Linked DNA regions of Homo sapiens. The protein of the gene in region 1 purifies or fractionates together with the protein of each later gene. This does not show direct contact. Each region holds a gene or a part of one and is shown on either strand. Other genes may lie near its edges. The genes, in order: SLC6A4, TRAM1, LEMD3, SURF4 and ATL1.

Region 1 (4,309 bases):
CATCACAAGACCTTATGTGTGAATCAGGTTTTGACACACACCAAGTGCGTCCTCACACTCTACTCCGTCTGACGTGGCCACCCCAGTTCCTGGGAGGCAGGAAGGGTGGGGCTTCCATCTTGAAAACTGTGTGCCCTCCATTAACCCTGGGGGTGGGTAACAGATCCAAGACCCAGAGACTGGCAAAGCTGCACATGAGAATAAGAGTTTCCACCATATAACAATTCCATGGGATTTCTCAGGACCAGGATTGATATTTCTAAAGTCCATGACAGTTAGCCCCCTCTGATGTCTTCAGCTTCAGAACAGTAGGAAATGTTAAATTGATTTCCGTAGAGTCACAGAGGCTTTGGAATAAAGACCTCTTTCTATTTTAAAGTCCCTTTTGAAAGTGTGAGGGACATGTCTTCAGCCTCTCATGGGTTAGCTAGGGGTGCCCTCGTTTGGGGTATGGGGTTGGTCAAAGCACCGAATCAGGCCAAAGATACAAGCATGCTAACATGCTTGTAACAAGAAGGCCCTGGGACCTCGCCCACTAGATGCCATCATCTGTTTTTTCTCCCTCTGTTGCTCTTTTCTTTTTCCACAAAAACTTCACGGTAAAATAGAGTGGTCATATTGGCTAGATTTTCTTTTTCTGCAAGGGGCAGTTCTAAGGATAAATGATATTTGCTTACTAGACTTTGAGCCATCACAAGACCATCACAGGAAGCAAACCCACTGGTTTTAAAGCCATCATCAGAGTCATCATTTCAAGCCCATAGATTTTGGAGGCCCCAGAACTGGGTGCCAAGGGAGTTGCCCTGTCCCTGCATGGCCTGAACACATGGAAAGATCTCTAAGGCATCGAGCTTCTCTCAAATCTTTGAATAAAAAATGTTTTGGAAACAGGGTCTTATTCTGTCACCCAGGCTGAAGTACAGTGGTGTGATCATGGCTCACTGTAGCCTTGACCTCCCAGGCTCAAGCAATCTTCCCACCTCAGCCTCCTGAGTAGCTGGGACTATAGGTGTGCACTACCATGCCCAGCTCATTTATTTTTTTATAGAGGCAGGGTCTCACTATGTTGCCCAGGCTGGTCTTGAACTCCACCATGCCCAGCCTTCTTTGGAAAATTTCAGGAACATTTAGAAATAAATCAAAAGTTAGATCTTTACAAAGATTCAAAGCAAAGCAACTCAGTAGGAGCAAGGGACCTGCATAGAACCCGAGGTCCTACCTGCGTCTTTGGCCACCTCAGACACATCTTCATTCCTCATCTCAGCCATGTAACCGAGCACTGTGAAGATGACAAATCCCGAAACGAAGCTCGTCATGCAGTTCACCACGCTGGTCACCAGGGCATCTCTGGAGGGGAAAACCCAAGGGGCCGCCTGAGACAGTTCCAAGATCAGGGGTCTAAGGAGCATCTGTCCGTGTGCCTGCCCTGCCTTAGACAGGGCGGCCACAGCAAGGACAAGCAGGCTGAACTCAAGGAACCTCAAGCCTGTCCCGGAGTCCCTTCGCCTTCTCCCAGAACCCAGCTGCCGAGGCCTGAAGCTCTGACTGCCATGACCACCACACATGGTGGAGGGAGAAGAGCAGTCAGGGGTGCTTTAAAAGGCAATCCTGCTAGCACAGACCTCTCCATTTCAAACCAGCCTTGTTCTGGAGCAGGGCCCAGGTTGGAGTGGGGGCCAGGACAGGGCCTGAGCCTCACATTTGTGAGATCCTCAGATTTAGGCTTTATCTTCAAACTAAGTCACAGACTGCCAGCCAGAGAGATACCCTCATTTTTTTTTCTTTTTTTTTTTTTTTTTTGAGACAGAGCCTTGCTCTATTGCCCAGGCTGGAGTGCAGTGGCTTGATCTCAGCTCACTGTACCCTCTGCCTCCCGGGTTCAGGTGATTCTCCTGCTTCCGCCTCCCAAGTAGCTGGGATTACAGGCGCCCACGACCACGCCTGGCTAATTTTTGTATTTTTAGTAGAGATGGGGTTTCCCCATGTTGGCCAGGCTGGTCTCAAACTCCTGATCTCACACTTTTAAATGACAGCCTCATCATACAACTGCAGGGTGGTGTCCCAGTGCAAGGCCACATTGCTTAGGGTACATGTGAATCTCCCTCCCACCTTTAAAAAAATCAGTTTTACAATTATCTTATGCATAGCACAAAGAGATTGATGGATGCTGCCATCTGTGATCAATTAAAATTAAGTCTAAAGATGATGGGTGACATTTATTTATTTATTTATTTATTTATTTTTGAGATAGGGTCTCCCTCTGTTGCACAGGCTGAAGTGCAGTGGCATGAACACAGCTCACTGCAGCCTTAACCTCCCGGGCTCAAGCAATCCTCCTGCTTCAGCCTCCTGAAGAGCTGGGACCATAGGCATGCACCACCACACTCAGCTAATTTTTAAATTTTTTGTAGAGATGGGATCTCACCATGTTGCCCAGGCTGGACTCAAACTCTTAGGCTCAAGTGATCCTCCTGCCTCAGCCTCCCAAAGGGCTAAGATTACAGGTTTGAGCAACTGCACCTGGCCCAGTGGGTGATATTTAAAACCATAATTGGTGTAACATTTCCTGTTCTGTTAAAATTTCTGAAATAGGATTTTGTTGCAAAAATTATGGCATTTTGGCTGGGCACAGTGGCTCACGCCTGTAATCCCAGCACTTTGGGAGGCTGAGGCAGGTGGATCACCTGAGGTCGGGAGTTGGAGACCAGCCTGACCAACATGGAGAAACCCCATCTCTACTAAAAATACAAATTTAGCCAGTCGTGGTGGCGCATGCCTGTCATCCCAGCTACTCGGGAGGCTGAGGCAGGAGAATCGCTTGAACCCGGGAGGCAGAGGTTGTGGTGAGCTGAGATTGCGCCATTGCACTCCAGCCTGGACAACAAGAGCGAAACTCCGTCTCAAAAAAAAAAAAAAAAAAAGAAAAGAAAAGAAAAATTATGGTATTTTGTGTTAGTCAAAATAATGTGATCATCATACTTTTTGTTTATACATAATACAAATAATCACATTACAATTTTTATTGTTAAACACATTGACTAGTTAAACCTAACTACTTAATTGTATGTTGCAGCTTTTTGTAAACTTGCTTTGCAATTTCTCTTTCTTTCTTTCTTTTTTTTTTTTTTTTTTGATGGAATCTCACTCTGTCGCCCAGGCTGGAGTGCAGTGGCACAATCTCGGCTCACCGCAAACTCCACCTCCTGGGTTCACGCCATTCTCCTGTCTCAGCCTCCTGAGTAGCTGGGACTACAGGCGCCCGCCACCACGCCCGGCTAATTTGTTTGTATTTTTAGTAGAGATGGGGTTTCACCGTGTTAGCCAGGATGGTATCGATCTCCTGACCTCGTGATCCACCCGCCTCGGCCTCCCAAAGTGTTGAGATTACAGGTGGGAGCCACCGCACCCCGTCTCTCTCTTTCTTTCTTTCTTTCTTTCCTTCCTTCTTTCTTCTTTCTTTCTTTTTCTTTCCTTCCTTCCTTTCTTTCTTTCTTTCTTTCTTTTTTCTTTCTTTCTTTCTTTCTTTATTTCTCTCTCTCTCTTTCTCTCTCTCTCTTTCTTTCTTTCTGGAATCTTGCTCTGTCACTCAGGCTGGAGTGTAGTGGCAAGATCTCAGCTCACTGCAACTTCTCGTGCCTCAGCCTCCCAAGTGGCTGTGCTTACAGGTGTGCAACACCATGCCTGGCTAATCTTTGTATTTTTAGTACAGACAGGGTTTCGCCATGTTGGCCAGGTTAGCCTGGAACTCCTGACCTCAGGTGATCCACCTGCCTTGGCCTCCCAAAGTGCTGGGATTACAGGCGTGAGCCACCATGTCCAGCCTCTTATTATTTTTATATACAGGAGCGCTGACAAAACCGAAGGGCATGGGGCCCCTCTCAGCCTGAGTGGCCCAGGTGAAGCCACGGCCTGGATGAGTGCTCTGGCCATGGGTGAGCTGGTCAGGGGCCTGCAGCACCCCTGAGGGGCAGTGGTATCAAGGCCTAAGCCTGGCCAGATTCGAGGCCGTCGGTCCAATCACCTTCCTCCACACTAGCTGACTTTCACTCACGCCACTTTCAAGCTTTGCTTGGGGACCCCAGATACTCACTGGTAGCAGTTGTTGTTGAACTTGTTGTAGCTAGCAAAAGCCAGCAGGACCCCAAAGCCCGGACCAAGAGAGAAGAAGATCTGAGCGGCTGCATCTATCCACACCTGGAACACAGCAGGGGTAAGGGCATGGGGTGAGGGGGAGACACAGGCTTACCCTGGCACCAACAGGGTCGCCACTCCTGCCTCCATGTGGCTAAGTGCAGAGGCAGAAAAACAG
Region 2 (4,309 bases), on another chromosome or scaffold:
ATAAAATTTGACCTGGCATCTACTGGATACCACCTTGTGCCTCTGTGTTCTTCAGTCCACTGCAATGCAGCTCCTGCTCTCACTACTTAGTTGGAATCACTCAAGCTGTGACCACTGATGACTTCTTAAATTGTCCAGTCTATCGTTCTCTTTCCTCCCACATCTCTTTTGAAACTTTTGACTTTATTAACCACACCTTTTAGAAATGTTTCCCCTTTGGCTTTTGGGACTACAAGCTCTTTTTATTTCTTTCTCTGTCTCTCTAACCATTTTTTCTTAGTTTCAGTGACTTGAAGTTTTGCTTTTTTCCCTGTTCTCTCCATGGGTCTGATGTTGTCCTACTTCTCTACAAATACTGTGCACTCTCCATATATGATTTATGTATTTTCACAGCTTCAGCTATTATCTGTAGAAAGAGACTCCCAAATCTTTATTTAAGCTAGGTTCTCCCTACTGAGTTCTAGACTTAGGTTTTAGCTGCCTTACTGCTCATCTCCCAGAAATCTCAGCTGTAGGCATCAATAAATAACCTTGTACTCTTTCTTCTAGCTTACCAAACCTTATTTTGCCTTATGAGTGCCTCCTGTATCCCACAGTCACTGTCTTAGTTCAGGTCTCATTATCTTTCATGTGGTCTCTTGCAGAAGTTTCATTCTTGGCTGCATGCTCACTCCGGTTTGTACTTTTAACTGATATTTATTCAGCGATATTGATTAATTACCTAATATGTACCAGGCCCCATGCTGGGCTCTGAAATATAGTGATGAGTGGAAACAGGCATGATCCCAGTTCTAATGGAGCTTACTTTCTAATGGGCGAGACAGAAATTATTAATATAATCAACCAGAGTATGCCTTTGAAGGAAAGGAACACAGTTCTCTGAGATAATCTAACAAAGGAAATGACCTACTCTAGGAAGACAGGGAGACTTCCTTGAAAAGGTGTAATGCAACTGAGATCTGATGGGAAATATTTTCCGACCGTATTTTAGATAGAACAGCATGTGCAGAGACCCTGTGGTAGAAGGTGCTGCAGAGGCAGAGAGAGGAGTCAGACCATAGAGTCCTATGGTCACATTCTCCTAGAAAGATGGGAATCTAGTGAAGGATTTTTAGCAGGTAGGGAGGGGGATGTGGTAACATGATGAGAAAATCATTCTAGTTGCAATATGGAGAATGGATCTGAAGGGGCCTGGGATACCACTTAGCAGGTCACAGAGAGCAATCCTTCTAAAAGGCATAAATGAACTTTCCCGTCCTCAACATTCTCCACTTGTGCGAAAGTGAAATCTAAACTACTTAGCTCAAAAAACAGAGTCCTTTCTAGCACTCAATAATGTTTCTAGTCTTTTCTAACGCTTCCTGATGTGCATCCTGTGCCTGGCCTTGTGTTCACTGCTACTTGATCTTGCCACGCTCTGTTTCTTCTATCTGTACTGTCCTCTTCATCCCCCTTTGTGAACCTAGGGAACACCTATTTTCCAGCAAAACACAGCTCCTTCATTTCATTCCACCCCAGAAAAAAAACCAACAAAGCTCATTGTTTATCCCAAGTACCCACAGTGCAAGCTATTGGCACTTATTCTACAGTATTATAACAGTTTATTTACCTGTACTTTTCACACCACGGAGCTCCTTGTCATTAGGGATTATTTTATCCATCTTCATCTCGTCCTTTTTTGTCTAGCACTTTGCCTGGTGCCTGTAAAGATTGGGTAAGCATTCCATTTTTCTGCTCTGACCAGTTTACTTTTACCAGTAGTCAGGTCAGTTAAACAGTTATTGACCACTTAACTCTGCTGGGTGTGTGGGATACTAACACACCCACACCACAGACCCTATATTTGATCTGCTTTTCTCATGCTAACTGTGCTTCTCTTTATTTTATTAATTTACACTTGAAATTTGTCTTAATAGGAACTTTTTATTCATTGTATAGGGCTAGAGTAGAGAATCATCATTTGTCAAATAACTGTTTTCTGGAACTGCAGAAAATGTCTTTTGAAATCTTAAAATTAAGGATGAATTACACAATTTTACCTAAACCGCAGAAGAGTACTCTAGTGAATTACATTAGCTCCTTGGCAATCAGTAATTTCCATTGTGTCTGTCAGGATTCCACAGGAACGAGGAGGCCCTTGGTGCTTCGATTTAGGGACAGATTTTATAATGTTTTTGCCCCGATCTGTTATTTGGGAGAGGGTCACAAATTGACTTGATCTTTGTTTTTCCTTCTTTGTAGATAACGGCAAAAGCTTCTATCATTTTTGTTACTCTTCAGTACAATGTCACCCTCCCAGCAACAGGTAGGTAATTTACGCTAAGAATTTTCTACGTAAATAGAAGTTCAGTTGAACAAACTTGGAAATTTTCATGAATGCTAGGTCCTGCGTTAATTAATCGTCAGAGATCTCATCCATGATGTGACTGAATGTTATTGTGATGATTTTATAATACAAGATCTGATGTTTTTGATTGACTTTACCCTGTATATGTTTTCTGTTTACTATATATTTTTGTGAATGGACTTGAAATTCCATAAAATAATTTTGTTTTGCTTTCTCTGCTTTCTGATTTTTTCCTAAGAAAATTATAAGAAAAGATCTTTTTAAAATTGTTTAAATGTCATTGTTCATTCAAGACTTCTAAAAGCACAATGGCAGATTTAGTTTTTCTGTAAGTTACATTTTGGACCTGTAATAGCAATCAATCCTTCTAAGATTATTTTCACTTTTTCCTGTGCTCTACTTTTAACAATTATTTTGATTCCAGAAAATGTGTTAGTAAGCTCTAGGAATTATCTGGTAATAGCATCCAAACTATTAGGTTTTATTTCAAAAATCTTATTTCTTAATCTATGTAAAAATTAGGTGTTTCTTGGAAGTTGATTGTAATTTAATACAGTGATATAATTAACTAGCATGGGTGAGGGATGGGGTATTTTTTGGTTGAGGCAGTAAACCTGCACAGTTTTTTATTTAGAATGTAAGATAATATAGTATACCACATTTAGTTGGGGTTTTTTGTTGTTGTTGCTGTTATTTATATGTGTGTTTTTAAGAGATGACAGGGTCTTGCCAAATGTGTTACCTAGGCAGGAGTGCTGTGGCGTGATCGTAGCTCACTGCAGCCTCCAGCTTCTGGGCTCAAATGATCCTCCCAGGTCAGCCTCCCAAGTAGGTGGGACTACAAGGGCACACCACCACGCCCAGCTAATTTTTCAATTTACTATAGAGATGGAGTCTCACTATACTACCTAGGTCAGTCTTGAATTTGGGCCTCAAGCAATCCTTGCCTCCCTAAGTGTTGGGATTACAGGGGTGAGCCACTGCATCTAGCCCCTGAGTTGGGTTTTTGTTCAGTTATGTACAGTTTTGTAAATATTTAATTTAGTGATTTAGTTATCAGGTTACTCAAAACTACAATACTGTTTTGAAATTTGAATATGCCAGAGAAGAATAAAGCTCTTTTATGTATATGTTCCCCATAAACATAAAGTTTGAGAATAAGTGTCAGCAATTCACAAGTATTTGATAAAGATTTGTTTTGAAAAATTATAGCAATTGCAAGGATTAAAAACAACTTTAGTAGTTGCCTTTATCTCTGCTGCTTATAGATCAAAACTAAATCAAATACAGGTCAAATCAGCTTTTTCATCAGAATCATAATTTAGTGTGTAGTTAGAAAGTAGAAGTAGAAAGTTTCAAAAGCCCTTTGAAAAAAATAGGTCAGTAGGCTAAGTATAACTTTATCAACCTAATTTATACCCCTGGGATAATATCAGTTTATTGAGTGTGGCCTCCTCTTCCCTGTTTTTTGGTCTTTGGTGGCTGTGACTAACATGTGTCAAGTCTTTGTAAGTAATTTCTAAAGCTTTAGATTTCTAGATAGTTTTGATTTTCATTGCCCCTCTAAGACTCAAGATGTCCAAGACCACGTTATTTATGATGTTAATATAGAACTTTTTTATTAGGTTATTCTTCTTTGTTTCCATAACTATGTTGTACTTAATGCTGTTTTTATAACCTTGTGTATATTTTTGTGTATTTGTGTCCTTTTTGGTCTTCAGAAGAACAAGCTACTGAATCAGTGTCCCTTTATTACTATGGCATCAAAGATTTGGCTACTGTTTTCTTCTACATGCTAGTGGCGATAATTATTCATGCCGTAATTCAAGAGTATATGTTGGATGTAAGTATGCAGTCTTAGAAATCTATACTTTATAAAGTACTAGCTCTCCATAATCTGCTAGTCATATATTAAATATAATTTATAATTTATTCTTAATTACTAATGGCTGTTTTTATTTT
Region 3 (4,309 bases), on another chromosome or scaffold:
ATGATAAAACCATTCAATAAAGAGGAATAGAAGGAAATTATCTCAACATATTAAAGGCCATACATGGAAACCCTTAGCTAATATCATACTCAATGGTGACAAACTGAAAGATTTTCCTGGCCAGGCATGGTGGCTCACACTTATAATCCCAGCACTTTGGGAGGCCGAGGTGGGTGGATCACGTGAGGTCAGGAGTTCGAGACCAGCCTGGCCAACATGGTGAAACCCCATCTCTACTAACAATACAAAAAAATTAGCCAGGTGTGGTGGCACACACCTGTAATCCCATCTACTCAGGAAGCTGAGACATGTGAATCGCTTGAGCCCAGGAGGTGGAGGTTGTATTGAGCAGAGATCACACCACTGCACTCCAGCCTGGGCGACAGAGTGAGACTCTGTCTCAAGGAAAAAAAAAAAAAAAAAAGAGAGATTTTCCTCTAAGATCAGGAAGAAGGCCAGGGTGGCTATTTTTCCCATCTCTATCTCTCATAGCACTAGACATCCTAGCCAAAGCAATTAGATAAGAAAAAGAAATAAAAAACATCCAAATCAGAAAGAAGTAAATTTATCTCTCTTAGCAAGTGACATAATCTTATACATAGAAAGCCCTAAAGATTTCACCAAAAAAATCTTGTTATTTGGCTGGGTGTGGTGGCTCATGCTTGTAATCCGTGCTTTAGGAGGCCAAGGCAGGAGGATAACTTGAGCCCAGGAGTTTGAGACCAGCCTGGGCAACATAGCAAGGCCCCTATCTCTACTAAAAAGAATCTTGTTAGAATAAACAAATTCAGCTAAGTTGGAAGATATAAAATCAATATACAAAAATCAGTTACATTTCTATACACTAACAACAATCTGAAAAGGAGGTTAAGAAAATAATCCCATTTATAATAGCATTAGAAAGATTTAGATACTTAGGAATAAACTTAACCAGGGAGGTGAAAGACTTATACACTGAAAACTACAAAAAAAAAAAAAAAAGCTGAATGAAATAAAAGACACAAATAAATAGAAAGACATCTCATGTTCGTGAATTGGAAGACTTAATATTACTCAAATTACTATACCACCGAAGGCAATACAGCAATACAAAATCCCAATAGCATTTTTTGCAGAAATAGAAGACATAATCCTAATATCCATATGGAACCACAAAGGCCTCACACTGACTTTAAAACATATGACAAAACTATAGTAATCAAAACAGTATAGTACTAGCATAATAATAGACATAAATGGACCAGTGGAACAAAATAGAGAACCAGAAATAAAGCCACTGATGTATGATCCAACAATCTTCTACAAGGGTGCCAGACTACACAATGGAGAAATGACAATCTCTTCAATAAATGGTGCTAGGAAAACTGGATTTCCACATGCAACAGAATCAAACTGGACCTTTATCTTATACCGTACACAAAAATCAACTCCAAATGGATTAAAGACTTAAATGTAAGACCTGAAACTATATAACTTCTTGAAGAAAACATAGAAGAAAAGCTTCTTGACGTTGATATGGGCAATAATTTCTTGGACATGACACCAAAAGCATAGGCAACAAAAGCAAAAACAGAAAAGTGGGACTACATCAAACTAAAAAGCATATGTGCAGTAAAAAAAAACAGTGAATACAGTGAAAAAGTAACCTACAGAATGGGAGAAAATATTTGCAAACCATATATCTGACAAGGGGTTAATATGCAAAATGCATAAGAAACCCCCACAATTCAATAACAAAATAAATAACCCAACTTAAAAATCAGCAAAGAACTTGAATAGCACTTCTCCAAAGAAGATATACAAATGGCCAACAGATAAGGTATTATATATATGCTGTATACATGCTATATATACACACAGATGTATATGTATATAAATGGTATATGAAAAGATGCTCAACATCAGTAATCATCAGGGAAACACAAATAAAAACACAGTGAGCTATAAGGCAAATAAGTGTTAAGGATAGGCAGAAACTGGAATCCTACTATACTATTGGAAAGAATGTAAAATGGTACAGTCAATATGAAAACAGTATGGAGGTTCCTCAAAAAATAAAAAGTTGAACTACCATATTATCTATCAATCCCACTTCTAGGTATTTGTCTAACAGAATTAAAAGTAGAGTCTCAAAGAAGTACTTGCATTGCCATGTTCATTGATGAATTATTCACAATAGCCAAGAGGTGGAAACAATCTAAAAGCCCATCAACATGACTGGATAAAGAAAATATATGTATACATACAATGAAATTCTACTCAGCCTTAAAAAATGAAGGAAGTACTGTCATGTTACAATATGGATGAAACTTGAAGATATTATGCTAGGTGAAATAAGCCAGTCACAGGACAAAAATTGCAGGATTCAACTTATATGAGGTATCTGTTAATCACACTGATGGAGGAAGAAAGTAAAATGGTGGTTGCCAGGGATATGGAGCAGAGGAAAACGGGGGCCTGCTGTGCAATGGCTATAGAGTTTCAGTCATACAAGATGAAGAAGTTCTAGAGATTTGCTGTATAAGAATGCACATATAGTTGTACGGTATACTTAAAAATATGTTAACAGATTTCACGTTATATATTTTTTACCACAATTTTAACAAGGGGATGGGAGGCATGAAATTTGTATGGCATGACTTGTCCACGTTCAAATGCCAGCCACCTTCCAGGGATCAACGTTTCCATTTGCAAGAACTCAGATCTTTATGAAATTATCTTTATGGAACTGGACCGACAACAAGCTTTCCTGTATGGTTTTCAAATGCCACTTTCCACTTCTGAGAAATCAGAATGACATTTATCCATCTTTAATCTTTTACTACCTTTCATTAAGATTTTCCAGAAATTATTTACAGTAGTTTAGAAAATTCAACAGCAAGTTCTCTTAGTATTTGGAGAAGAAACTGATGTGGGACAGAAGATTTTAAATAAATGGTTAGATATTTACCTGCTCTCTTACATGCTACTACTCACCTATCTCAATTTCCCTATGACCAATGTTTCTTTGTACCCTTTCCAAATTAATATGCATTCTCTCATAGAGAATGTTCTAAAACAAACTAAAAAAAATTGAACAGGTGGCTCACGCCTATAATCCCAGCACTTTGGGAGGCCAAGGCATGCAGATCACTTGAGGCCAGGAGTTTGAGACCAGCCTGGCCAACATAGTGAAACTCCATCTCTACTAAAAATACAAAAAACATTAGCTGGGCGAGGTGGTGGGTGCCTGTAATTCCAGCTACTCGCGAGGCTGAGGCAGGAGAATCGCTTGAACCCCGGTTGCGAACGTTGCAGTGAGTCGAGATCAGCCATTGCACTCCAGCCTGGGGAACAAGAGCGAAACTGTGTCTCACAAAAAAAAAAAAAAAAAAAAAGTTGAACAATTTTACTTTCTCATAACTGCTCATATTATACCAAACAGCAGGCCCAAGCTTTTAACAGTACAATTAAAATAATCAAACATATGATTCTTACAAGTAGCAATGATTTATATAATTTTTTAAAATATAGCTATTAAAATTCTAATTTCATTGCTTACTTTTAAATACGCAGCTGCCTCTTGAACAGAAAGCGTTCTTTGACTAGAACTGCCACATTCATGATCTCCTGGAAAGATTAGCATATTATTAATTTTGAATCAGTACTCTCTTAAACAGAAGAAAACAAACATAATTAATTCAAATATTTTATACATTATACAATTACAGGTTATATTATTATAATCAGTAAAGAAAGAACATGAACAATATTATTTATAATTTCTAGAAGAAATTCCAGTAAGAATATAAACAAAGAAATTCCAGTAAGAATATAAACAAACAACTACCATTACATTAACCACAACTTTTAAATGCATTTCAGTCCAAACAAGAACTTATCTTCCTCTTATATTCCCAACTAAACTGTAAGCTGGTATAGGAACTATGTCACACTGATGCCTATCCACAGATCTTGGCACACAAGACGCCCTCCAGAAATATGTATTATTCCTAAAAGGGAAAAAATTCAGCATATTCATTGTGCTAACTTAACTTACACATCTATTCTTAAAGCTAATCATTTAAGGGTTCAAATAAGTTTGAATTTATTAATGAATTAAAGTATGTGCATTTTCAGAGTATAACTAATCCTATCTTTAGCAAGGGGTGTGCATGCCTTAAAAACTGTTATAACATAACCAGGTGTGGTAGTATGCATCTGTTGTCCCAATTATTCGGGAAGCAGAGGCGAGAAGACAGCTTGACTCCATAAATTTGAAGCTGCAGTGAGCTGTGATCACCCTACTTCACTCCAGCCTGAGTGACAG
Region 4 (4,309 bases), on another chromosome or scaffold:
GTCTTGGGTATGGATTGCAGTCTACCTCTCTGCTGCTGTTGGGGTCCACGCCCCACACCCACACCCTGCCCTGGGAGTCCCACCACGGCTCCGTCTCATCTCAGAGGTCTGGACAGCCTCCTGTTGAGCTCTTCCTTCCCAGTGGTTGCTTTTCCCCAGGTTCAGATGAGATAAAGGCTTGTGTCCTTGCTGGGGCTTCCCAGCTGGGCCACGATGTGAGGCCATTCCTTGAGAGCAGTGGCACATCGTGTGCCACGGTGGTGTGCTTTCTCTCTTCCATGGAATATGGGTGATTACACTGTTGCTGGGCATTTAGAGAGCAACGGGGCCATGAGGCAGAACCTGGGGAGGGTGTGTGGCGTCACCTTTCCCACCACCCAGTGTGATGCAGGTTGCGTCACACTGTGCACATGGGCATCTTGTGCTGGTTCTCTGCATTGGCCCTAAAATTCACAGGGGAGTATTTGGGGCCTTTTTAAAAATAAAAAGTGAAACAAGGTCTTCCTCCTAGTAAAGTTGGAAAGCATCTTACCAACCATTAGTTCAGGTGGCCTCACTCTACTGCAGGATAGTAGAGACACTCTCAAAAAAGTAACTGGGCGTGTCCAGGTCACACGGTGTGCTGGCTGGATGGTACCAGGGCAGGATGAGATCACAGGGCCTCAGAACCTCCACCTGCACTTCATCTCCCAAACCCACTTGGTGATTCTCTGGGTATCTGTCGGTCACTGTGATTTCTCCCATCACTTCCGTGGAGTCAAAGGCTGAGTAAATGTGTGCAGAACTGACACTGCAGGGCGCAGTGGGTTTGGGGAGAATGGCCACCTGGCTTTGTAATCTCTGCCTCCGTTCTCTGCCACATGGGAGCCAATCTGCAGTGCTGACCTAGTCAGGGCCCCACCTGACAGGCTGGAGGGTGACCTGAACACCCAGGGGCGTGGTAACTGAGATGGGCAGCTTCAGCAGTGTCTAGGACTTTGAAGCAACTTTTAAAAATGCTGAAAAATAAGAAACACGCATATCTTCCTTTGTTCCAACAGTAGGTTTAGTCAGCCCTAGGAGGCCTGTGCAGCTGACGTTCGCTCGCCTCCCGTGGGGGTCAGCCTCTCGGGTGCTCTTTAGACTCTGGCTTCCCAACATGCGTTGGTGGATGGGTCCCCTGATCTTTCTCCGAAGGACTTGCTGTGTTACAGTATTTCTTTCACTTTATATCTCAGTTTTGCATGGGTGATAAGAGAAAAGTGCATGGGGTGAACCTGCGTGACATTTGTACCTGGCATCCGATAGTGCATGTTGGCTACCTAACCCAGCCGTCATAAATGACCTGACTCACAGCACAGCAGGAAGTCATAAATGTTTTCTTTCCCTTTGACATTTGACAGTGATTTCACACACTTGCGTTTCATTGCTGTTGAAACAGCTGTCCATCCCATTTGTTAGTGTGTTTTAATTTGCTCGAGATTATGCAGGCTTTGACAAAATCCCAGCGCTTTCTAGCCATTAGCGGTACCAGCTTCATGCTGCGCTGACGGTTGCTGCACACACAGTCCCCACGTCAGATCCTGAGCTTGCAGGGGAGAGCTCCGTCGGGCTGGGAAGCGCCAGCCCTGGTTTGCAACAGCACACATGCGCTGTCCAGAGCCTGGGGCCTCCTCCTGCTGCTCTGGAGATTTTCGGATAACTGTAAACGTGATCTTACTATTCAGTCAACCATGTGGCCCTCTAGGTGTGGCACCCTGGCTGTCACCTAAGCCAACCCTTGTTCTGTCAGGGTACTCTGGGCGTCACTGGGCAGGCTGGGAGGTCCAGGCCCTTGGCACCTCAGCCATGTGTGACCTGCAGGCTGGGGTCAAGTCTTGGCATTGCACCATCAGGTCTGCGAAGCCTAGGGGAACCCCTTCCCGCTGGGTTTAATATAGCCATTTGTAAGGTGAGGGGTTGGACCAGAGCAGCGGAGATGCCTGGCAAAGTGCAGCGGTGCCTCAGGAGGGAGGCTGCTGCTGGCATGTCGTGGGCAGACATGTCGTGCGTCATAGCCTGCAGCACCCAGGATGACCCACGGCAAAGAGTGGCCTGGCCTCAGATGCCAGTAGTGCTGAGGTGCAGAAACGTTGGATAGATGACCTCTAAGTGCCTTTTCAGATGTCATTCTGTGATTCCAACTTGTAAATGCCTTTGACCGAAAAGAGCAGCTCTGTGTCTTGTGGCAGTGCCACCTTGGAAGACTGTAGTTGCCTGCCGAGGCACTGGGGGAAATCACGGTAGCAGAGTGTTAGGGCTGCTGCCCTATAGGATCTGCCCCAGAGGGCCTAACGTCAAGTCATGCATCTCCGGGACTGATCCTTGGATTGTTGCATGTGTCCAGACTCACAGGGTAGCGCTCAGGAGCAAGCACTGAGAGCCCCCTAGTCTGCCCTGGGAAGGCACCGGGGCTGACAAGAGCTCTTGCCTTCCACAGCGTCTGTTCCTCACACACCCCGCCCAAGGACGTGCCTGGCAGCGGCCTGGTGCTCCCCGCCGCAGCCACCTCACCCTTGGGTTTCTGTGGCCCTGCAGTTCCTCCGTGTCACAAAGCAGTACCTGCCCCACGTGGCGCGCCTCTGTCTGATCAGCACCTTCCTGGAGGACGGCATCCGTATGTGGTTCCAGTGGAGCGAGCAGCGCGACTACATCGACACCACCTGGAACTGCGGCTACCTGCTGGCCTCGTCCTTCGTCTTCCTCAACTTGCTGGGACAGCTGAGTGAGTGGCTCTGCGGGTGGTCAGGATTCACTGGGCGTCTTGTTCCATGATCGTTAGCAGTTGGGAGGCTGTGTGTGAACTCGGGGGTCTCCTGGACTGCTGTCCCCCCTCCATTCCCCTCTTCTCCAGCTCAGCTGTGCCAGGCCAGGAGTCCGGTTCTGCAAGCCTTGGTGGGGACGCTTAGTCTCTAGCCCTGAGCTCACTGCTTTAGAGCTTGCTAAGGAAATAGGACATGGTCCCTGTCAGGGACCCAAAGCAGGAGATGCTGGAGTCTGGCTGGCAGTCCACAGTAGAGCAGTTAATTGCCTACCTCAGGTGGGTGGCTGACTTGGGAGCTGATTGTGGGAAACAGCCCATTCTTTATGACGGCAAGGGCTCCACTTTCTGGTGTTTGTGATAAGTCTAGTCAGCTTACCATGTGTGGTCCTTGCCTATCATTAATTCTTCCAGAAGTTGTCTTTTGCTTGGGTAGGTGGTTTGGCTGCCTCTGGACCTAAGGGCCAGGTGAGGTAGCAGTGTATCAAGACAGTGCTCCCCGCCGGCACCCACCCTCAGGCCCCCTAACCCTTGTCCTTCTCTCCAGCTGGCTGCGTCCTGGTGTTGAGCAGGAACTTCGTGCAGTACGCCTGCTTCGGGCTCTTTGGAATCATAGCTCTGCAGGTACACGGGCCGCGTGGTCGGGGCTCCCTTCTCTTTGCTCTGGTGGAGCAGAGCTTCTGAAAAGACATCCTTGAGGGTTCAGTGTCACTCCCCCTTCAGCCCCCTGCATGTCTCTGACTGCCTGGAGCTCCTTTCTCTTCTGGGGAAGTCGTGAGCCCAAGCAGGGCTGTAGAGGCAGGTCATTCGGTACTGGGCCATCTTTTGTCCCATTTCTATGATTACCGTGACAAGGGAAGTCTCGAGCTTGGCTGCAGCCAGGATGCTGTCTTGTTATCACGTTGCTTCATAAAGAAGAATACTTGGTTATTCAGAATGAAATGCTGGGAACAGAATATCTGAATCCACATCAGTGGTCTCAGAATCACTTTGTTCTCTGGAACATCATAGCACATTTCTTGAGAAATACAGAACCACATTTTTGAGCTTAGATCTGTCCTCGGTCTCCTACAATGGTTTTGTGTGTTTTAGACTCCAGCTGACATTGGAGAGACGGCCTAATGTATTATGAAGTCTGTGGAAATGCCTTTGGAAAGGCTGAGACTCAAGTATCTCTCTCTTCTTTCCCCTCAGACGATTGCCTACAGCATTTTATGGGACTTGAAGTTTTTGATGAGGTATGTGCATTCTGGTTGGTTTTAGTATACGCTCCTTCTACAGGTTGAGCATTGCAAATCCAAAGTCTGAAATGCTCCAAAATGGGAAAAATCTTGGGCACCAACATGACGCTCAAAGGAAGTGCTCATTGGAGCATTTCAGGTTTTGGATTTTCAGATTTGGGATGCTCAGCCAATAAGTATATAATGCAAATATACCAAAATCTGAAACACTTTGGGTCCTAAGCATTTCAGGTTAGGGATACTCAATCTGTATTTCTAAACTCAGTTAACTATTGGTTTGAGTAGACTT
Region 5 (4,823 bases), on another chromosome or scaffold:
TTATAAACACAACAGGTTTTTAAAAAATTAATTTCTTTTTCAATTGGGCATAGGTGTTGAATTATATAAATTTTTTCTTTTTTGTGTGTAATCTATTGTACTCTTAAAAATGGGATTCATATGAAAGGGATTTTCAGGCTGGAATGTAAGCTGAGAATGATAGTAAAGGAATATAAGAAGAAAAGCAGACCACACTTCTCTTTTGTTCTATGAACTTGGTTTATAGGTATAAGGATGAGATAATGTCTGTCTTCCTATGTTGTTTCATTAATGTCATTTCAACTCTGTTGAGCACAGACTTCTTTAAAACCATGTTGTAAACTTGGTTACAGTGTTCACGACTCTGCAGTCACTAGAACCAGTAACTGAAATATAATGCATAAGATTTGGCAGTGGTGGGGGAGTTTGTTTTCAGATATGTTGATGTTCAAATGTCAGTAGGAAAACAACGTGAGGATAACCTTAGGCAGTTATAAACACACCTCTGGTATAATGTCCTCTCTTCTAGAGGGCAGAAGACTACAAGTATAGATTTGGGAATCATCAGCATGGAGGTCCTGTCTGAAGCCATCATAGTAAATTACATTGAGAGAGTGTAGCGTGAGGAGTTGCTTACCATGAGGAATTAGCAGAGATCATGGATCTGGTAATTAAGAGGCTGGCAGTGATCTCCTAAGAACCGATCAGTACAGAGTGTGAGTAACAACCAAATGGCAGAAGGAAACTGTAAGGGACGGCATGATGGTATCTTGAGGTTGAGGTAGTATAAAGGGACAGTGTTTCCAGGTTACTGAAAACAACTAAGTTTGTAGCAGAGAGAAAGCAGTGAAAAGGGAAAGATTGAAAGTATTTTTATTTTTTTTCTTTTCCTTTCAAAATTGTCTGCAACCTTTATGGCTGCCAGGGCCCACCCATACCCAGACTATGTAGTATGATTTCAGCTCAAATAATTGCTATTGGACTATAGGTCTGGACCTTATCTTTGCAAATCTAGTGGGAAATTTTACCCAGTGGATATTGAGTTACAGATCGTAATGAATCTACAGCTTTCATTTATCTTGATCTTCTTGATATAAATTTTGCTATTCTAATTTTAAGACAAACTACTCAGTATACATATACAAAAATGCATGATACCCTCTTTACTAACATGACCTTGCTTTTAAAATGGAAAAAAAAATGGGTGCCTCGTAGATAAATGCACATTATTTTAGCTACTTTGGCTATATAAATGTTGCCAGCTTGTTTGTACTAATGTATAACCGTGCTTGAAACAGGTATTTGAACATCCAGAATCATGCAGTATATCGGTTTGTGTATTTCTGATAACGCTGTTAAATTCTTTGAGAGTGTGTTCGAGGGGGGTGCTGTTTATTTGTTTGTGTTTTCCGTTGAAAATGTTGCGGTACGTGGTCTATCACTGTCTTCACGGTCTGGGGGTGGACTGAGGTAGGGAGGGTGTGACGCTGGTATCTGTGTGAACTCGGGCTTGTGATGCTGAGCTTGGTTCATCTGCTTTCTCCTCCCTTTTCCTCCCCACTCCTTCCCACCAGCGCCACAGCAACATCCTCAGAGTCTGAGCGAACTGCGCCCAGCGCGGGCACGGAGCCTCCCACCGCCAGCAACCTGCGGCCCCGGAGAAGGCAGCGAGCGCAGTGACAGCGCCTCACCGCCACCAGCTCCTGGACCACCATGGCCAAGAACCGCAGGGACAGAAACAGTTGGGGTGAGTAGCAAATGAGAACTTCTGCAGCCTGCACGGGGTCTTCTGGCCCTCCACTTTCTGCTTCTGTGGAGACAGGGAGGGCCAAGGGCTGCTAGGTGCCTGCGTCCACGGCTGGGAGACGGGCCGTAGCCGAGCCGCTCCCTGTTTGGGCGGAGGAACCATGGCCGAGCGGTACCCGCGTCACCGAATCGCGCTGTCGGGGTGAGGGCTGCAGCTTCGCGCAGGCCGGGCCTCCAGCTCCTTCTTCCCCACCCCCCTCCCGCCTCCTCCCAGCATTTGGACAGCACCCACCAGGCGCCTCCGGGGACTTGTGGGTTCCGCCTTAGCGATCGGTTGGGAGGAAGGCTATGGGGGTGGGCAGGGGGCTGTTGTTACTCGGCCCCAGAGGGGCGAGGGGTCGGGGATCTAGAGCAGGCCAAGCCCCAACCCCCCTCCCCGGGAGCCGCCAACTCGCTGGCTCTGCAGGGCGCGGGCTCCCGGCGGCGGGCGGCGGGCGGCGCGCTGGAACAATGAGGCGGAGCGCGCCGGGTCCCGGACGGACGGTAGCAGACCGAGCAACTGGGAGAAGGGCCACCCTCTTGGGAATTCCTGAGCACTGCAGTACTCCTCTTAATTTGGGGGTTGGGTGGGGGAATTGGGGAAGAAGGAGAGCAAAGTTGTGGTTTCCAGCCTTCTGCCCCACCCCGACGTGGTACCCCATTCAGACCAGCCCCAAGGGTGGCTTTGTTCTTTGATTTTACCTTTTGGAGACATTGGGCTCATGATTCAGCACCAGGCCGAGGGGAGGGGAAAGGAGAGGCGAGACCCAGTATGTTCACACCGCGAGTGGGTGGGCGGTGCTCACGCAGGCGGAGAAGAACGGGCGCAGCGATGCGGAAGAAATCGCGGCCCCGCCCGCCTTGCTGCTCCAGACCTAGTTCTGGACGGTTAGTGTGGGCAGGCTGGGCGTCTTTTTGTCGTAGGTTCCCGATTTCTTGCAGTCACAGTGCTAAACTCACCAGCATCTTAGGAACGAAAGCCCTCTAAGGCATTTATTTTATTATCTGAACCAGAGAATGTCTCAGGCTACTGTGGCTTGGTGGGTAAATAAATATTTTGTTCATCAGCTTGTTATTTAGAAATTGTTATTTGGAAATAACAGTTGTTATTATTTGAAAAGTTCAGAGCTGCTTGATTCTGTTCCACATCTCAGTGAGAGCTCTTCTATAACTGTTTATTTGAGCGAGAGGCACAAATGTAAATTTTAATTGGTTATTTCAGTTTACTTTAATCAAAAGACCGTGTATCTCCTTGCCTCTGATTGTTCTAATGGTCACAGGATACGGTAGACAAGGTTTACATTTGGGAGATTATCCAAGGTTTGTGGTAGGCATGGAGAGTTGGAGCGGGGAGGTCTGTCATGACTTAGCTGAGTTTAAGAGAAAGTGGTTCCATTTTCTGAGATCATGAAACTTCAGTTTTAACAGACCTACCTGACTATTGCAATAAGTTTTATTTCCTTCTTCTGAAATTTAAGTAAGCATTTGCAGTGTATCCCCTTTCCACCCGTTCTCTTGGCCTCTAGAATAGGAATTTATTGAACACACACAATTAGGGTGCGTATATTCAAGTCACTTTTGGTCTCAGTCTCCATGAATTGTTGTCTCCACCCTGTTAACAGAAGCATGTGAAAATGTATTCTGAGGATTAAAATTTTTCTCCTTTATGAAGCTTTGGATCATTATTGCGCAGAATTTCCTTTGGCTATAAACTTTTTTTTTTTTGAGATGGAGTCTTGCTCTGTCGCCTAGGCTGGAGTGCAGTGGTGCCTTCTGGGCTCACTGCAAGCTCCACCTCCCGGGTTCACGCCATTCTCCTGCCTCAACCTCCCGAGCAGCTGGGACTACAGGCGCCTGCCACCGTGCCCGGCTAATTTTTTGTATTTTTAGTAGAGACAGAGTTTCACCATGTTAGCCAGGATGGTTTCGATCTCCTGACCTCGTGATCCGCCCGCCTCGGCCTCCCAAAGTGCTGGGATTACAGGAGCGAGCCACCATTCCCGGCCTTATAAACTTCTTATGTAGTGGGAGTTTTTCCCTCTTGGGAACATGGTTCTCACATCCGGTTTTCATAAAAATCACACAGGGACTTATTAGAAATGCAGACTCTCCCATCTTCCAGCCAGAGCTTTGGAATCAATAGATCTGAAAGAGGGCCTAGAAATCTGCCTTTTAATTAGCATTTTAGGTGATTGGGAAGCAGATGGTCTTTAGGTGTTACTTTGAGAAATACTACCTTAGATTATTTACATTTGATAGAAACATCTCAGATAGTTTACCCAGAAGTCATCAGGAAAGTTTCAACTCAAGTGATGGATTAGGAAAAGAAATACTAGAATCACTATAGTGTTTACTGGAAATTATTATAGAAAAGAAAGAGTGGAATTCTGGACTCTTATCTTGATGTTCTATGGAAATGCTTTACTACTTAGATTTTTCTTTGCTGTTAAGTACATATGACATAAATGACTTAGAAAATGTAGTAGATGGAGTAGGAGATAGAGGTTTTGGCACAGATATTAGCCCTGTCAGTCTTAATTCCATTTTATTACCAGTATCTAATAGAATGCCTAACACAGTAGGCATTTAGTAACAGCAATAGTAGCCAACATCGTTAAGCTAATGTCATATGAAATAGGTGCTGTAATACTCATTTTACATATTAAAAGGTAAAGCTAGTAGATGATTGACCCAGGATTCCTGCTCTGGCAGTTTGAATTCAGATTCCTTTATCTTCTATCTCTTTGTTGAATGGATAATACCTTCTGTATTATATTATAGAACTACAGTTTCAATGCATATTCATCTGCATTATTGCATTTGATCTTCAACCTCTTAAGTATGTGTCTTAGGGCATATCACTATTTTGCAGATGAAAAAACTAACTCAGAGGTGAGTTAAATGATTTGGTGAAAGTCATGTATTTGGTAAGTAAAAGGACTGAAATTAGAATCTGGGTTTTTTTCCTAATTTATTTTCTATAACATGATATTGTGGAATGTTTTCATGGAGAGAATGGGGTGGGGTGTGAAGATAATAGAGAAAACAGATCCTTGTAG

What was found.
Region 2: the proteins of SLC6A4 (region 1) and TRAM1 purify together in Homo sapiens (affinity purification with mass spectrometry; one large-scale study listed by BioGRID and IntAct). This does not show direct contact.
Region 3: the proteins of SLC6A4 (region 1) and LEMD3 purify together in Homo sapiens (affinity purification with mass spectrometry; one large-scale study listed by BioGRID and IntAct). This does not show direct contact.
Region 4: the proteins of SLC6A4 (region 1) and SURF4 purify together in Homo sapiens (affinity purification with mass spectrometry; one large-scale study listed by BioGRID and IntAct). This does not show direct contact.
Region 5: the proteins of SLC6A4 (region 1) and ATL1 purify together in Homo sapiens (affinity purification with mass spectrometry; one large-scale study listed by BioGRID and IntAct). This does not show direct contact.

Annotation. Positions count from the first base shown.
Region 1 is NC_000017.11:30,211,521-30,215,829, forward strand, and holds part of SLC6A4 (sodium-dependent serotonin transporter), read right to left. Parts: intron 4,195-4,309; coding exon 4,091-4,194; intron 1,348-4,090; coding exon 1,220-1,347; intron 1-1,219.
Region 2 is NC_000008.11:70,598,015-70,602,323, reverse strand, and holds part of TRAM1 (translocating chain-associated membrane protein 1), read left to right. Parts: intron 1-2,241; coding exon 2,242-2,305; intron 2,306-4,068; coding exon 4,069-4,190; intron 4,191-4,309. UniProt on the Homo sapiens protein: Involved in the translocation of nascent protein chains into or through the endoplasmic reticulum (ER) membrane by facilitating the proper chain positioning at the SEC61 channel.
Region 3 is NC_000012.12:65,217,852-65,222,160, reverse strand, and holds part of LEMD3 (inner nuclear membrane protein Man1), read right to left. Parts: intron 3,610-4,309; coding exon 3,542-3,609; intron 1-3,541.
Region 4 is NC_000009.12:133,365,693-133,370,001, reverse strand, and holds part of SURF4 (surfeit locus protein 4), read left to right. Parts: intron 1-2,458; coding exon of another isoform or gene 2,459-2,556; coding exon 2,557-2,743; intron 2,744-3,326; coding exon 3,327-3,403; intron 3,404-3,973; coding exon 3,974-4,017; intron 4,018-4,309. UniProt on the Homo sapiens protein: Endoplasmic reticulum cargo receptor that mediates the export of lipoproteins by recruiting cargos into COPII vesicles to facilitate their secretion.
Region 5 is NC_000014.9:50,558,574-50,563,396, forward strand, and holds the start of ATL1 (atlastin-1), read left to right. Parts: upstream 1-1,571; 5' UTR 1,572-1,692; coding exon 1,693-1,726; intron 1,727-2,466; exon of another isoform or gene 2,467-2,553; intron 2,554-4,823.